4 separate regions of the Homo sapiens genome follow, and regions 1, 2 and 4 are each linked to region 3. Evidence: fine-mapped expression QTL. A gene starts in region 3. Each other region holds a variant in brackets. All regions are shown on one strand. Distances are between the middles of the regions.

Region 1 (4,000 bases), 140 kb before region 3:
ACCTGGCTGGTTGTTGCTTTCTGCATCTAAGAAATCTTTGTCCACTTTCAAGTCATTGAGGATATTCTGGTATGTTTCTCTCTAAAAGCTTTATGGTTTTAGCTGTTGTATGTAGGTCTATGAATTTCTCTATGGTATGAGATAGGAGTTGTGGTTCTTTTTTTTTTTTTTTTTTTTTGCATAGGAATATCCAATTATCCTAACACCACTTACTGCAAAAATTTCACATTAGCCACTGATCATATAAATGTGATCTGTTTCTTGGATTTCTATTCTGTCCCATGGTTGTACTTGTTATCTTTATGCCAGCACCACACTTTCTTGATTATTTTAAGTTTTGAAGCCAAACAGGGCATATCTTCCAACTTTTTAAAGTTTGCTTTGCTTATTCAAGGTCCTTCTCATTTTCATATATAATTTAGAAACAGTCTGTAGACTTCCACAGAAAAAAAACCTGCTGAAATTTTTGAATTGAAACACCAATTTGGGTAGAAGTGAATGTTAACACTGAGCCTTCCAGTATGTGAACATGATATGCCTCACCATTTATTCAAGTGTTCATTAAAATTTTCAGCAATGTTTTATGGTTTTCACTGTAAAGTTCTGGTCATCTCTTATTAAATTTTTTCCTAATTTTAATTTTTAAATTTTATTTCCTACTGTAAATGGGACTGGGCTTTTGGTTTCATTTTCCAATTGTTGGTTGCTAGTACATAAAATACAACTCACTTTTGTATATTGAGCTGTGTCCTATGACATTGGTAAATCAAATCCACTTATTAGTGCTAATAATTGTTTGTATATTCCTTAGAATTTTCTGCATAAAATCATGTCATCTGCAAACAGAAGCAAATGTATGTCTTACTTTTTGTTCTTTAAACCTCTCTCTCCTTTGTCTATTGCAATGATGAGGAACACCAATACAAGGTTGAACAGAAGAGGTAAGAATGGGCACCCTTACCTTGTTTCCAATCTTAAGAATGTATTCAATATCTCATGCCATTAAATATAATGTTAGCTGTATGTTTTCTTTGAGACAGGGTCTCACTTTGTCGCTCAGGTTGGAGTGCAGTGACATGATCATGGCTCACTGCAGCCTCAACCTCCTGGGCTTCAAGCGATCCTCCTGCCTCAGCCTCCCAAGTAGCTTGGGACTACAGGAGTGCATCACTATGCCCGGCTAACTTTTAATTTTTTTGTAGAGACAAGGTCTCACCATGTTGCCCAGGCTGCTCTTAAGACTCCTGGGCTCAAGTGATCCTCCCAAAGCTAACAGCACTTTAAAGATGTTCCCGTGTCTTCTGGCCTTCATAGTTTTTGATGGGAAGTCAGAGGACATGAGAATCACTGTTTTCTTATAAGTAATGTGTCGCTTTTCCTCTGGCTGATTGCAAGATTTATCTTTAGCCTGTTAGCTGCTTGACTATGACACATCTGACATGGGCTAAGGTTCACTGGGCTTCTTGAATCTGTATGCATATGCATGTGCATATGCCCTCCACCAAATCTGGAAAAATCTTAGCCAGTATATTTCCTAATATTTTTTTCTGCCCCAAGAGA[G/A]GTTTTTTCTACTCAGAAAGAATATGAAGACCAGATGACTCCTTAAAAGTACTTTCAGGAAAAAAATCATCAACCCAGGATGCTATATCTAACAAAAATATCCTGCAAGAATAAAGGGAAAATAAAATATTCTTAAGAAAAAAAAAATTTGTTACCAGTTACCATTTGTTACCTTGCAAAACAAGGACAGAATTTTTTTAGAACCCTATTTCCTAGTGTTAAGTCCATTATCTCGTATGATTTTATGGGTTTTAACTCTCTCTCTCTCTAGAAACTTAAAAGAGGCAGCAACTTACCTGAGAAAAATATTCTTCCGAAATGCGTGCAGCCCACTCGATGCAGTACTGCAGGGGTCGGCAGGGATTGGACACATCAGCACATTTAATCAGCATTCGTTTGATTAGGGTCCGGTTCTCTGGAGTCCTAAGCATAGTGTTTATCACTTCCTGGTTTTTATCAGTTTCCTGAAACATGAGTGGAATTCAAAGCAATCAAAATGGATCCCTTGGTGCCAAGCCCTCTCTTACTGGTCTGTCCCACTGTAAGCATAAAAAGAGCACTAGTCAGGATCTATAAGGATCTCACAAAACAGTGCCAAGGATACTGTGAGCATTGAGCTTGGCCTCTCATTTTACCCAGGAGAAAACCGAGGCTCAGTGAGATTGCAACAGGACCTAGAAGTGGAGGGTAGCACTAGGGGTTGGTATATCTGCCCTTCCCCTTTTCCTTGCCTCTTTCTTCTCTTCCTCTCACTAAATCTTTCTCACAGTTGCCTTTTTTTCTGTTCCACTCTCTCTCTCCCCCTTGGTAAGAACTCAAAGACTGGTTTTGTCTTTTATTATATTTATTAAAAAAGAGTATGAGCTGAAAAAAATAAATTTCTCTGCCCTCACAACAAATGGGCTCTTGCAGCCCAACAGCCTCCGTACTTCTCAACCCAGTCCTGTGATAGGGCAGATTCCCAAGATAACACCTAACATATTTGATGGATAAAGGACTTAACAGTCATTCTCTGTTGATCTGCACTCACAAGAAGATCTAATGGTAAGCATGAAAAGTATTATTTATTACATTTTACAAATGAGGACACTGAGACTCAGGGAGGTGAAGTGACTTGTCCAAAGCAACCAGCCGAGCCAGGATAAGAACTTCAGTTCTGCCTTTAGTCCCAGCATGCCTTCCACTCACAGTACCACATGCTGTCTGCATCCAAGGATCCCCACTGGATATGGATCAATTTATGATGTAATAGAACCACTATTTGTAGGCTCTCTGAAGAGAATTCAGGTTAGAGGGTATTGGGGCAGAGAGCAATGAAAAAGACTAAAGGCAAGCAGGTCTCCTCAGTCTGATTCTGTGCCCATCAAGCAACATTCCAAAGGAGTTAGTCATATATTTCAATATGCAATAGCAGTAGCCTAAGAAGCCCTGATGGTCCCAGCTCAGAGGGAACAGACTGCCATCAAGATGGACGGGTGGCATCCTGACTCTAGGCTTCCCACACTTCCTGGAGAGTGCCAAAATGAATACTACACCGGTGACACTTCAGTAGCTCTCCTCACTCCAGGTTTCCACTGTGACCAGCTCTGTGCTGACCCTTCTTTCTTCAGATCCGTTAATACCTGCAGTGTGACTATAGTTTCATACTGCCAGCCTGGAAACTATTCTCTTTCATCTTCCTTTCTCCTGCTCTGACCCACTGGATATTGATTTTCAGTCTCTCAGAAGTAACCCCATGTACCGACAACAGAGATGAGAACCATAATGTTAAGTGGAGCAGAGAACTCAGCTCTAGGGGCTGTCCAGACTAGACAGAGGAAACCAAGTCTGCTGGGTGTATGGTTTCCTTCTGTGGCATGAGGTCAGCCAGGAGTGGTGGCCAGGTGACAATGAGCCCTATCCAGAATGGCAGGGCAGGAGCCAATAAAACAGGCTGGTACAGGCACCTCTGTTAAAAGTCTTTGGAAAGAGAGTGAAGTCAGGGGCAGGCTGACAAATTGAGAGAACAGGAAAGGGTGAAGAAACAGTTCTCAACATCAGGTTAAACCAAAGTAAGTGTCATGGGGTAATATGCTAGAAAACCAGGGGGCAGACAAAGGCCATGGCCAAACAAATGAATTGCAGAAGTAAAATGGAGTTAGAAGTCAAGGAATTATGATCCTAGCCTGCGAGGATAAGTCATCCCTGTGTGTGGCAAATATCTCAGGATGGTGATAGGAGCTGGGGAGGAGGGTGGGAGAGAAGACTGTGAGCTGCTGCCAACATGTTCAGTAAATGTGGGCCTCAAAGGAAGAGGTTCATGAAAGAACATATTCTTTAAGTTGCTGATGACACAATGAATCTAGTATAATAGGCACCAGTTCTTAAGTGCCTACCATGTACCATGCTCATCAGTCCTATGCCTTGAGACTTCTTATCCCCATTCTACAGATAAGCAAAT
Region 2 (4,000 bases), 86 kb before region 3:
GGGGGTGGGGAGCCTGGAAAGATTTCTTGAACAGTCCAAAGTGGGCGGGCATCCTTAAAGGGATGATCTTAAGGGAGATAAGCCAGGTAAGGGCCAGAATGAAGACAAAACTGATTAGGAAAATAAATCAGGGTCTGCTCTTGCCTCTAGAAAACTCACTACGATTAGCACAAGGACCCATCCCTACCCCAAATCCTCACCCAACAAGATGGAGATGACGTGGTAGAAAACAGCTTGTGAGAAACACTTGAGATTCTTGACCAAGGCTGTGATGTGGCCATCAGGAAATAAATGTGATCGGGGATTACATTTGTAAAGGCCTGCTCTCTCTGGCTAGCACAGTGGAGGGGACTGTTCTGCTTACTTGTCACTGGTTCCCCTAAACCTAGTGTGAGCTTTTCGGTTCTGGAGCCATGCTTACAAGGTCTATCAATCAGAAAAGGGTACTCAGGGGAAGCACCCTTGATGTGGTGGGAATATGAAACCAGGATCTGTTAGGAGCCACTCATAGCAGTAAGGGTGTGCTCAGTTCAGAAAAGGAAAGATGTCTGGGGTGGGGGGACACAATTCCTGTCCTCCAGTGTTGGAAGTCCATTCTGGGGAAGAGGAATAATAGCTCTGTTCTAGCAATCCTGTGCGCCAACTGTGGACAAAGTTGGGTTCAATATAAAGCAAAGCTTCTAAATCTCAGGGTTTCACTTAGTGAGCCCCAGGTCCTGAGGAGAGGCTGGATGGAGAGTGCTAGGCACTTCATAGAGGAGAGGCACATCTGACATTCTCTGCTTCTCTAAAACCATATATTAAAGCAATCCAGTTCCCATTCTTTACTTTAAAACTATATAAAATTGTTATTTACATGACGAAAGAACTCTGATTAACTATAGTGCTTATGGAATTTGGTATTTGTGTGAGTTTTTAACTGAGCACGTAACATTACTTTTTTTCATTGAAATATTTCAGCTCCTCTAGTCTATAAGCTCATAGAAGACAAGAACTTCATTTTATAACTTTCAGTCTAAAACATTCTCTTGTACATAGCTCAATAAAAATCTGCTGAATGAATTAACCCTATTTGTTTAGAATATTCCTAAAATGTACAGCAATAGTACATTTTCTTCCCTTAAAAAGTGGAACATAAAGTTAATGTTATGTTTCTTTTACCACAATTTTTAACAGTGGAGCGTAACCAACACAATTTAAATTTTCTTTTACAATACAAGATGCTCTAGTAGTCACCTTTAAAAGTATGAACTTTCATTGCCTAGCACATACCTGTGGCTAGGCTTGGGCCTGGACAAGACTAGGAAAGAGGCCAAATTTTCTCCAGCCCCTCACCCTGTCCTCCCTCTTCTATCTCGGCAGCCATTTGGCCCACCTTAGACACCTCTACTGCCTTGCAACATTCCACCATGACTACCAAGCACCATGTAATTTAGATATCATCTTCCCTTCCTCTGAGTGGTATCTATTCAATGTTAGGGATAAAAGGGATACTGGAAACCAAGTGTTCCAAATTTACAGCTGAGCTAAAACATCCCCAGAGAAGGCAGAGTTACCCAGAGACAAGCAGCTATCCAGGAAGAGCCAAA[C/A]AAGGACCTGGACCTCCCTTTTTCCTGGCCGGAGCTCTCTCCATTTCTTTTGGGCTGCAATCCCCCATGAATGTGCTGGGTGACTGGCCAAATGACATGTCAAGAAATCTGGGGTAGGGCGGGCACAGTGCGGTGGCTCACACCTGTAATCCCAGCACTTTGGGAGGCTGAGGCAGATGGATCACTTGGGGTCAGGAGTTCAAGACCAGCCTGGCCAATATGGTCAAACACCGTCTCTATTAAAAATACAAAATTAGCCAGGCATGGTGGTGTGCGCCTGTAATCCCAGCTACTTGGGAGGCTGAGGCAGGAGAATCCCTTGAACCCTGGAGGTGGAGGTTGCAGTGAGCTGAGATCGAGCCTTGCACTCCAGACTGGGTTACAGAGTGAGACTCCGTCACAAGAAAAAAAAAAAGAAATCTGGGCTACAATGATGATGGCTTATTGTGAAGTCATGCAGATTGAAACAGATGAGGAACACAGGCACATTTCAGGCACTAGATCAAGGCCACAGGAGAAACTACTGGAGGCAAGTCATGGAAGGGTAAACGCTACCTAGTCTGACTACCAGGAGTGTAGAGTTCTCAACACCAAGGAAACAAACCCATGTTGACGTCACCACATACCCCATAAATAATCTTTTAATATGTTGTCATTTGCTTGTCACCTCGGTTTTTAACCCATGGGTTTTTAATCTACTTAGCTTATATCTTTTCTCTCTCTTAAAAGTCAAGATTTTAAATGTCCTTAAAATTAATATGTCATAAAATTTTATATTTGCCTTGCTTCCATCAGCAACAAATAACTTTCTTTAAAAGGCATTTTTTAGGTTTAGGTCACTACAGAGAATTCTCTCATAATATTGACAAGGTGCAAGTATAATAAATAAAGCCCATTCATCGAACATTAAAAGACAATTTTCAAAATTTTTAAAACTTTGAAAACAATCTGAAAAATTATAATTCTTACTGCACTAATATACAAGTGATACTTGTGGTTAATTACATTTTGGGTTTCACTTTGACCCTTAATAATTCTTATTATTCACATTTTCTTACTGTTTCAAGTAAAGTGAAGCAAGACAAAACAAAAGAGATATGCATCAGTCCTATAAATAGTGAGGTTCTAATATTTTGTTTATTTCACATGCATGGAAAGCAACTTAAAAGAGAGTGAGTCTAATTTAATCTATTTCTAGGCTGCATGTATTGTCAGAAAGGCCAATGGGACTATTTAGGCCCGAGTCTTGGGCTTACCTGCACAGTGCCTCTGCATCCAGCTGTCGAGGATTTCTGTGGTCTATGATGATAATGTCATGATGTTTGTCCAGGAAACAGGCAAGGACAGCCTGAGCCTCCTTGGTAACTGTACACTTAAACCCTGCTTTTTCACATGCCCTGCAGAATCCATTACATTGGTTATCTTCTTTGGTAAACACTAAAAGTACCTGAATCAAAAGAGCACAAACACTTTTTTTAAAAAAAGATGTTAGAATTGTCATTTCTTACACTTTTTTTTTCTTGAGACAGAGTCTTGCTCTGTTGCTCAGGCTGGAGTGTAATGGCATGATCTTGGCTCACTGCAACCTCTGCCTCCCAGGTTCAAGTGATTCTCCCACCTCAGCCCTGCCGAGTAGTTGGGCCACAGGCACATGCCACCATGCCCAGCTAATTTTTGTATTTTTAGTAGAGACGGGGTTTTGCCATGTTGGCCAGGCTGATTTCGAACTCCTGGCTTCAAGTAATCCTCCCACCTCAGCCTCCCAAAGTGTTGGGATTACAGGCGTGAGCCACCGCGCCTGGTCAGAATCGTCATTTCTGTGTGTGTGTGTGTGTGTGTGTGTGTGTGTGTGTGTGTGTGTGTGTGTGTGTGTGTGTTTTGGGGGGATGGTGGGTGGGCAACAGGGTCTTCCTCTGTTGCATGGGCTGGTGTACAGTGGTGTGATGTCAGCTCACTGCAACCTCCACCTCCAGGGTTCCAGTGTTCTTGTACCTCAGAGCCCCCAGTGGCTGGGAGATTACAGGTGTGCGCCACCACATGCCCGGCTAATTTTTGTATTTTCAGTAGAGATGGGGTCCCTCCATGTTGCCCAGGCTAGTCTAGAACTCCTGGACTCAAGTGATCCACCTGCTGTGGCCTCCCAAAGTGCTGGGATTGCAGGTGTGAGCCACTGCACCTGGCCATATGCCTACTTTTTTGCTAAGAAACCCACTGGCAGAACTCAACAAAGATTTAGTTAAGCATTTTATCTTGAAACTAAAAGAATTAAAACACATTAATATTTATTTTAGCTGAAAGAAAGTTAACTGGGTAAGTTCTCAGATGGTGAATGCTAATATCTTGGTGAAATTATTAGAATACTTAATCCTATAAATAATGTATTGAAATGTTTGACTCAAGATTTTATGTAA
Region 3 (4,253 bases):
GGTCTGCCAATACAGAAGAATGGTTGAAGTAAGTACTTAAAAACTCAGGGACCTAACGGCACTGCGATAGCACAAGAGCAAGCTGCTGCTGCACTGGGGAGGCTTACAAGACACCTAGGTGAATTTTAGGACACCCAATCCACCACAAAAAAAGCCTGTAAGACACAAAGGCCCCTCACTATAAAAGGGCTACTTTGGTAATCTGAAATTATCACATTAGTCTGCAAAATGTTAGATTTGGACTGAAAACTTGAAAGCTGTTAAAGTTTCCATATGCACCTGTGTAACACTTTTTTAAAGCCAAGTAGGCTTAACACACAGCTTAACACTGATATTAAGAGCACCTTGAGTTAGTAAGCCTAAACCATCAGAGGTTTCTTTAAAGAATCTATAGGAGAAGGAATTCAATTTCTGATAATCAGAACAAAGTTGAATTTTCACTTAGGGTATGGGAATGGTGGGGAAATCAACTGTTATGCAACACTGAAAAAGACTTTCCCCTTTCGTACAGAAAAAGTATCATGACGACTGCTAGAAATGTAAGACAGAAAGTACATCAAACTATATCCCTCAAACTTCGGAGGTTCAGCAGTTCTCAGCAAGCAAGGAAAAATCAAACAAATTTTGCAAATTACTCTTTCAAAAACTGGTCGTGATGAGAGGGATGACAGCCAACAATCTGCAGCCATGCACGAATTTTGTTGTTGTTGTCTTTTACTGGTTTAACAAAACATAAACCAACGCATGAGTTCCAGCTTTAAATTCTGAAATGAGAGAACTGGAAAGCTGCTGCTGTGTGCCTTAATGATCACGTTTTTCTTTTTCCTTTTTAACTTTCCTTTAGAAAACCTCAACAAAGACTAAGCCCAGAAACTTTGACAAAACATAAGCCAAGGCAACATGCGCTGGAGAAGACACGCAATGTAAAAAAACAAAAAACCCCAGTCACAAAATGTCCCAGTAAGTCGGCTTAATAAAAGATTAACTTTGTTCTGCTGAATGCTTCAAAAATCGCGTTTCACAGTATTTTCTAATTACATATGCTTTAAATACAGTATGTATGCTAATAAACGTGGACCTCAAATACATGTGCAATGAAGCAAAGCTGATGTTCCAGATTACATTCTAGCAGTCCCGAAGAAAATGGTAACCTGCAACTGCATGTGCAAAGCTGACAGAGGGAAAAGAGTGGTGAGGCCAGTCGCCCTTCCCTTTCTACCACAGGAAAAGAACAAAGTTCACACTGATTTAACATTGCAGGGGCGCGCCAGAATATCCTGGGGGTTTCCCTCAAACACCCGCTCTTGGAGAGGAAATTGATGCAAGCGCCTCAGTCAACTTCACATCGGGCCCCGCCGCTCCGGGAGTCGGATGTGTCCAAAAAACCGACGCCGCGACACAGGCGGCGTCCTAATCGCAACCCTAGGAAATCAGGGTCGCGGGACCTGGGTCGGTCCTTCTCTGAACGCTGCCCCGGCAAGGCGGGAGACTGGCGTCAATCAGAACCATCCAAAGCGGGACAAGAGGGCACCGAGGCCGGGTGGGGGGGACCCCGCCCGGCCCCTGCGGGAAAGTTGCTTACTGGCCGGGCCCGAGTTTCGCGGCGGCCCCAGAGTGCCCGGCGCCCCTTACCTTCTTGCCGCTGCCGTCGCGAAGCTCCGACTCCAAGAGGCCGGCGCCGCGGGTCCGGGGCAAGGCGGCCGTCTTCTGGCCCTGCGGGAGGCGCGGCCCGCCGGACGACAGCGGCGGTGCCGCGGGGCTAGGCGCGTCCTCGGCCACCAGGCGCTCGGAAATGTGGATGCTCGGGGCACAGCCCATGCTGGCGGCGGCGCCGCGGACACGCTGGCGGGTAGCCGCGATCCGGTCAGCAAACGGCCCACCCGGCGCCTCCGGGCCGCCGCGGGCGCCGTGTCATCGCCGCCTGGGCGGGCGGCGGCGAGCGCGGATCTCGCGTCAGGAAACGCGGCCGCCCCTTTTATCGCGGTGCGGGCGCTGCGGCGGCGGCGGCTGCGGTGGGAAGGGGGCGCTTAGGCGGGTGGCGTGCCGAGGCCGCCCCTCCGAACATGCCCTTCCTGAGGCAGGAGCCGACGGCCGCCTCTCACATCGCCGGGCTCGCCTCGGCCGCGCTTCCGGGGAAATAGGGGGAGGAGATTTGCGCTCTCCTTACCCAGGAGCGGCTGAGTCCACGCCGCGCGAGCCACGCTGCCCTCGCCGAGCTGCGGCACGACCCCCGGGGGAGGCGAGCTCCCGGCCGCGCCCGGCCCCGCTCCCGCCGCCGCCGCCGCCGCCTCCCCGGCTCCAGACTCCGCCTAGATGTGGACACCCACGCCGCTCCGCCCGCTGGGCCGCCGCCTCGCGGAAAAGCCCCCCCAGGCCGAGTGCCGGTGGGGTACAAGGCTAGCCTTAGACGCTCCCGCTGGCCGGGGTTTAGGCGCGGGGTCCGAGGGAAACCCCTCGGAGCGGCCGGGCCACGTCCGCCAGGGTAGGGAGGGGAGCAGCTCGGCTCCAGCGGGGCCTGGGGCCGCACCGTCGAGAAGCGCAGAAACGGCTGCGCGCACCCAGGAGTTGCTGGCGGTACGGCTCCGGCTCCGGCTCCGTGATCCGGGCCGGGTTTTGCCGGCAGCGTGCCGCGCCGAGCCCCCAGCGGTGACCTCCAGCGGGTGCTGGCGTCAATGCAAAGCAGCTGGGGCGCCCGCCACCTCCTCCGGACGCCGCCCGCAACTGAGCATGCGCGGCGACGACAGGCGGGGCGCCCGACTGGGCTACCCAGAGAAGGAAAGAGACTTGCCCAGGGACACACAGCCACCTCCGTCCCGAGGCCACCAGAAGCCCGACCGCCAAATTCGAATTCCGGCTCCGTAACTTAGCGGCTACTTGACCTCGGTGGGGTCACCAAGTGTGAGCCCTGGAGCTGTTACCCAGAAAAGAGGCCGGTGGAAAGACCTCCTTTGGGGGTAGTGAAAGTCAAACTGGGGCGCCGCGCGCCGGGTCCCGGGTGGGTGGGGCCTGGGCGTCCGCGAGAAGCCGCAGCCCACGTGCGCTCCCTCGCAGGCCAAAACCTGGCGCGCCACGCCTCGGATTACACAGGCGCCGGGGCGGCCGCAAAGCTACAGCACCGGGCAGGCTGCAGGCGCCCGTCCTCCTCTCATTTTAACCAAAGTGCTAGTCGGGCGTCCGAGACCCCAAAGGCAGAGCCAGGGGAAGGGGCGTACGCATTGCAGGCCTGGGGCCCATGAGGACCCCGGACACGCACACAGCCACTAGCTTGCTGTGTGAACTGGGCCAGTCACTTAACTTCTTGGTGGCTGGGGCTCCTCCCCCACCAGCTGGAGGGCGGTGTCTCTGGGCGTCCATCACGTATCCTGTAGCGGGCTGCCTCGGACCCCCGCCAGTCTTCCCGCCCTCCCTGGGCTCCCGGTTTGCGGAGACCCTGGCGCGGTGCAGCCGGCTCCTTCCTGTCCTCTCCGACCGTCCACACCTTTCCTAGCGCGGCCCTGGAGCGACCCTGAGAGGCAGCCGCTCCCGCCTTGGCCCGGCTACTGCAAAGACCCGGAGGCGTGCTGCGGGCTGGATTCCCTGCTGTCGCGCTGGGACTGCAGCACAGGTTCAGGTGCCGGGTCCCCGGAGCCTCGATCTCTGGCCCGAGCAGGGTAACCCGAGAGCACGTTACTGGCGAAACTGCCCCGAACCACTGGCACGTGGCTCTATTACCAAGTTTAAGCCCATTAAGCAATATTAATATTTATGCTTCTCTGCCTTATAAAAGTACTACTGGCTTGGTGAAGATGTCTTAAAAAACAAAGGAAAAGATTTTTAAACATCACTCTTTATTCCGCCTAAATCGTATAATTTTTTTCTGCCTTTGCTCTGCAATTTTAAGAGGTCTTTTTTCCAGGTAGAATCTGGAGCTCTTGTAAATAAAGGATACTTCATGGAGAAAATGCTTGGAACCAACAGAGTTCATGGAAGTTTAAAGCGCGACCTCTCCTCCCCGCCCTGCAGAGAAGTACGGCCTTGACGACTCCCGGCGCTGACCTTGCCGCTTCTGGGGCTCCAAGCAGCTCTAGTCCTCTCGGCCCTCCCCTCCTAGGCAGGACCTCGGCGTCCCGCCTCCCTTGTTGGTCCTTGGGCCATGCACTAAATGAAGGAGTTGGGGACTAGGGCTGGGGGATCAGCTGGCCTGAAAAGCCCCGTGTGCACCGCCCCACACCTTGCTGACTGCCCGGACTGCCTTGTGCTGTCCTGAGCTGGTC
Region 4 (4,000 bases), 120 kb before region 3:
GTGTTCATTCCTTCAAATTTCCCCTCTTCTCAACCACATGGAGCTGGAAATGTGTCTCCTTCCTCTGAGCTTCATGATGAGTAATGTCCACATAGCCACCTGATGAGCCTGGACTGAGAACTTATGATTATTTGTTCCTTCATTCTTCTCTCTTTTATTCCACTCAACAAACCTTCACCCACCATGTGTGATGCCCTAAGCTAGGCATTAGGGAGGTGAAAATGAATGAGGTATAGTCCATGAACTCGAAAGGAGATGGTCAGTGGGGAAAAGGGTGGGTAAACTAGGAGTTACAGTAATAATTCTGAAGTTCAGGAGGAGCCTGGAGGGGGAAGTGGCAGATTCTCAAGGGAGTGGGGGCAGAAAGGAGATGGATGGAGTCTTGTAGCTGCAGCCAAGATGAGGAGGAGGACGACAGCATTTCCAGGAGGAGGAAACTGCTTGTGCAGATGGAGCAGTGTGGCTGGAGAGGAGCAAGCAGCAGAGGGTGTATGAAGGACGCACTGTGAAAAGTGGAGGGAGACTAACCAGGCTTTAATTTCTACTTGACTGTTTCAAAGTTACTTTATGTAAATACAAGATCCTCTTGTTCCCAAAAGCCCTGCTAAGCTCACTGCTCCCCTAGTCCCTGTAGCACGTTATAGATGATTCTAGCAATTTTCGCCCAGTGGGTAGAGATGGACCACGTCTCCACCCTGTCACCCCAGCACCCAGCTCTCAGAAGCTCTCCTCAGGGAACACCAAGAGGTTGAAGATGAAGTGTGAGGCTTACATCCCAATGAGACTACCAGCTCCTGAAGGCGTGCTGCGCCCAGGGCCTCATGCTTACTGGGTGCTCAGAAAACACATACTCATCCTGAGGTATCCGGCCTGCCAGTGGAGAGAACACTAACTAGGCCTCCATAGCCAGGGCTTGGGCTCAGGATCACCTGCAACTTCATGTCTCTGCTCTTGGCTTCCTGTTCTGTAAAATAGGGTCCATAAACTCTGCCCACCCTTTCAATACAGAAAAATTAATAGCATTTCCTTGACCTGCTGGGTAAATCCAGGAAACCCTGGAAAAACAGTGGGGGTGATGAGAGAGGATAACCAATCAGTACCCCTCAAAAACAGCAGCTTCCTCCAACTCGCATTAGCCCTGCAGCCTGGAAGTATGAGTTCCAGTTTGGATATGAGGAAGTCCAGACCCCAGTATTTTATGTGACTTGCCCAAAAGTCATTCTGCCGGGACCACAGCTGACTGTCGGAACATCTCCTCAGGCACTATCAACAAGCATTTGCAGAGCACTTACTCTGCAACAGGGCCACCTCCAAACTGCCAAGCCCACAGGACTCTCTGCACATGGGCCTCTGGTAACTACCTCTTCCTCCCAAGAAAGCTCACTTTCTCCAGGCACAGACCAAATCTCCCAACTCTTTTCAATCATCTATGAGGCCTCTAACAATGGCCCCAACCCTGGTAGCCCATGAGAACACCTGCAAAGTATGAGGCCTGGGTTCCATTCCATACCACCTGAACAAGAACCAGAGCCTGTCACATTACTGGCAAGGCATGTCCTGACCACCTCCTCATCCCCTGCATGCCCAATCCCCTGGCTTTATTCTTCTCCACAGAACTTAGCACCATCTGATATACTGTATGTTTATTTGCTTACTGTTTACCTCACCCCCAGATAGAAACATATCTTGCAAGCAGAGACACAACTGCACTGAGTTTGGATGAATGATGAATGAATGAATTCATCCTGCTCCTCAGTGCTCCCCTGGCCATTATTCACGTCTATTATTGCTGGACTCCTTTCTTGGTACTCAGTCTTCCTGCCTCACTTTCTCTCTTCAGAATAGTTGGCCCAGGGCCAAAAGTTTTGGCTTATCACTTCAGATGTGGTAAGTTCAAATCTAAACTTACTATCCACTCCCTGTACAAACCTGCTCTTTCTTACGATCTTATTTGCACTTGTTATTTTAACTAATGTTATCCAGTGGCCAAGCTAGATATCTTGGTGTCATTCTGAAGTCTTCTCTTTATCCCACACAGTAAGCTGGTTCCCAAATCCTACTGATTATACTTAAGTAACTCCTGAATCCAGTCTCTGATTGGGCTCCTGAGGCTGGATTCAGGAGTTACTTTGTCTTCAATCTCTTTTCTCCATGACTGTCTTCCTAAGACCTGACCCTTTCCCATTTACCTATTTATAAAGATTCCCTTGGTCTTCCTCTGCCTACAGGATGAATCCAAACTGGCCTGCCCCAGCCTCGCTTCGCGATGCCTTTATGGGTGCTGCTTCTCCCATCTTGTCCTCTGCATGACCCCTACTTCTCTTCAGACACCAGGTCAACCATCATCATCATCATTGCTGGGAAGCATTCCCCAGCTTTTCTCCAGTGTGGTACTACAAACCACAGCATATTCAAATTATTTTCTCCTGCCACCAGACAGCGAAACTCATGTTCATTTCTGTATGCTTACAGTCAGGCTCAGGGCC[T/G]GACCTAGAACAAGTCAATAGACTGGACAGTTGTCACTACAATTTGGTGTCCTCAGTGAGACAGTGTCACGTGAAAACAACACATGGGCCAGGGAAAAGGGAGCATGTATTGGGATTTTATTACTCTTTTGGATGCCCAGACCCTGAACCTTCCTTCCCATGTCTGGGAGTACTAAGTCCTCTCAGTAGGGGAGGGAGAAGGCCAGAGACTCCACTGCTCCATACCCAGTTAGTGACAGAGTAGGTGACACAGGCCCAGACAAATGAGTGCTTCCTTCCAAGAGTCTGCTTTTGAGTGAGGTAAGGAAGCGAGGTGTGAAGAAGCTATGCTACCCGTGGTGAGAACAGCAACACCCTATAACCAGATCTCAACAGGGCCAGTGGTGCTCAAAGCTCAGTAGTGACAGCAGTGGCCCCCTAAGCACAGTGCTCCTATGGCATGCCTACGGCAGTGGGGACAATTGCTCAGCTTCCCCAGGTTCTTGCTTCCTTTTCCAAAACTAGTTCTAGAGCTTTGTTGTCCAATCTATAAGCAACCCTATTTCCTTCCAGAAAAAACTCCTTTTCTGCTGAAGAATTGATTTCTGTTGTGTATAACCAAGGACTTTGGCTGGCCCATGGCCTATAACAGCTCCACCCTGCCTTCTCAAGTGAAGATGGCCAGTTGAGACCTTTGGACATAAAGGTGGTTATGCTGCTAAGGGGGTAGGTAGGATGGGCAAGTGGCTCACCTGGGTGGGATGGGTAAAACTCCTAAGTCAACGGTGACCAAGTAAAACGACCAAATGCCCTGGTACAAATGCAGTTTGGGAGATGCTCCCCCTGCCGAACATTTCCTCTGACTGCATCACTGACTCTGCCTCTCAGTCCCAGCTCTGCCATATCCCGGCTGCCCAACTCTAGGCTGTCTTTCAACTTTTTTCTTTTTTTAGACAGAGTCTTGCTGTCGCCCAGGCTGGAGTGCAGTGGCGCGATCTCAGCTCACTGCAGCCTCTGCCTCCTAGGTTCAAGCAATTCTCGTGCCTCAGCCTCCCCTGTAGCTGGGACTACTGGCGCGTGTCACCACACCCGGCTAATTTTTTGTATGTTTGGTACAGACAGGTTTTCACCATGTTGCCTAGGCTGGTCTCAAACTCCTGGGCTCAAGCGATCCACCTGCCTTGGCCTCCCAAAGTGCTAGGATTAGAGGTGTGAGCCACCACACCTGGCTCATTGAACTTTTCTGAGCCTCAGTTTCTTCCTCTGTAATAAAGGAATATAAATAATAGTCATACCTACTTTACAGTGGTATTCTTTTTTTTTTTTTTTTGAGATGGAGTTTCACTCTTGTAGCCCAGGCTGGAGTACAATGGCGCGATCTCGGCTCACCACAACCTCAGCCTCCCGGGTTCAAGTGATTCTCCTGCCTCAGCCTCCTGAGTAGCTGGGATGACAGGCATGCGCCACGACGCCTGGCTAATTTTGTATTTTTAGTAGAGACGAGGTTTCTCCATGTTGGTCAGGCTGCTCTCAAC

Alleles and levels. Alleles are on the strand shown, and positions count from the first base shown. SD is a standard deviation of normalised expression in the study named. Not every link is listed here.
For the expression in fibroblasts of the gene that starts at base 2,125 in region 3, A is the low allele of the variant in region 2 and C is the other (small effect, 0.22 SD a copy in GTEx).
For the expression in memory regulatory T cells of the gene that starts at base 2,125 in region 3, allele T in region 4 goes with a lower level than allele G (large effect, 0.76 SD a copy in Schmiedel 2018).

The links. PIP is the estimated chance that this variant, and not a neighbour inherited with it, causes the effect. A credible set is the group of variants that fine-mapping cannot tell apart.
Region 1: its variant is the best candidate, but not a certain one, in a credible set for the expression of PDE8A in whole blood (INTERVAL, PIP 0.83).
Region 2: its variant is the best candidate, but not a certain one, in a credible set for the expression of PDE8A in fibroblasts (GTEx, PIP 0.81).
Region 4: its variant is the best candidate, but not a certain one, in a credible set for the expression of PDE8A in memory regulatory T cells (Schmiedel 2018, PIP 0.77).

What each region holds. Positions count from the first base shown.
Region 1 is chr15:85,124,231-85,128,230 of GRCh38, reverse strand. PDE8A (phosphodiesterase 8A) reads right to left here. Exons shown (of 22, transcript NM_002605.3): 20 at 1,857-2,024. Among named protein-coding and RNA genes, the nearest start is that of PDE8A, 140 kb to the right of the region's middle. RefSeq lists an enhancer at 2,651-3,201. The variant G/A (reference allele first, on the strand shown) is at 1,561.
Region 2 is chr15:85,066,050-85,070,049 of GRCh38, reverse strand. PDE8A (phosphodiesterase 8A) reads right to left here. Exons shown (of 22, transcript NM_002605.3): 3 at 2,846-3,036. Among named protein-coding and RNA genes, the nearest start is that of PDE8A, 86 kb to the right of the region's middle. The variant C/A (reference allele first, on the strand shown) is at 1,590.
Region 3 is chr15:84,979,728-84,983,980 of GRCh38, reverse strand. It overlaps PDE8A (phosphodiesterase 8A), which reads right to left and starts at 2,125. Exons shown (of 22, transcript NM_002605.3): 1 at 1,633-2,125. The coding sequence starts at 1,818. RefSeq lists enhancers at 1,944-2,476, 3,626-4,125, 4,126-4,253 and silencers at 2,204-2,693, 3,014-3,063, 3,624-3,673.
Region 4 is chr15:85,102,635-85,106,634 of GRCh38, reverse strand. All of the region lies in intron 11 of PDE8A (phosphodiesterase 8A), which reads right to left. Among named protein-coding and RNA genes, the nearest start is that of PDE8A, 120 kb to the right of the region's middle. The variant T/G (reference allele first, on the strand shown) is at 2,487.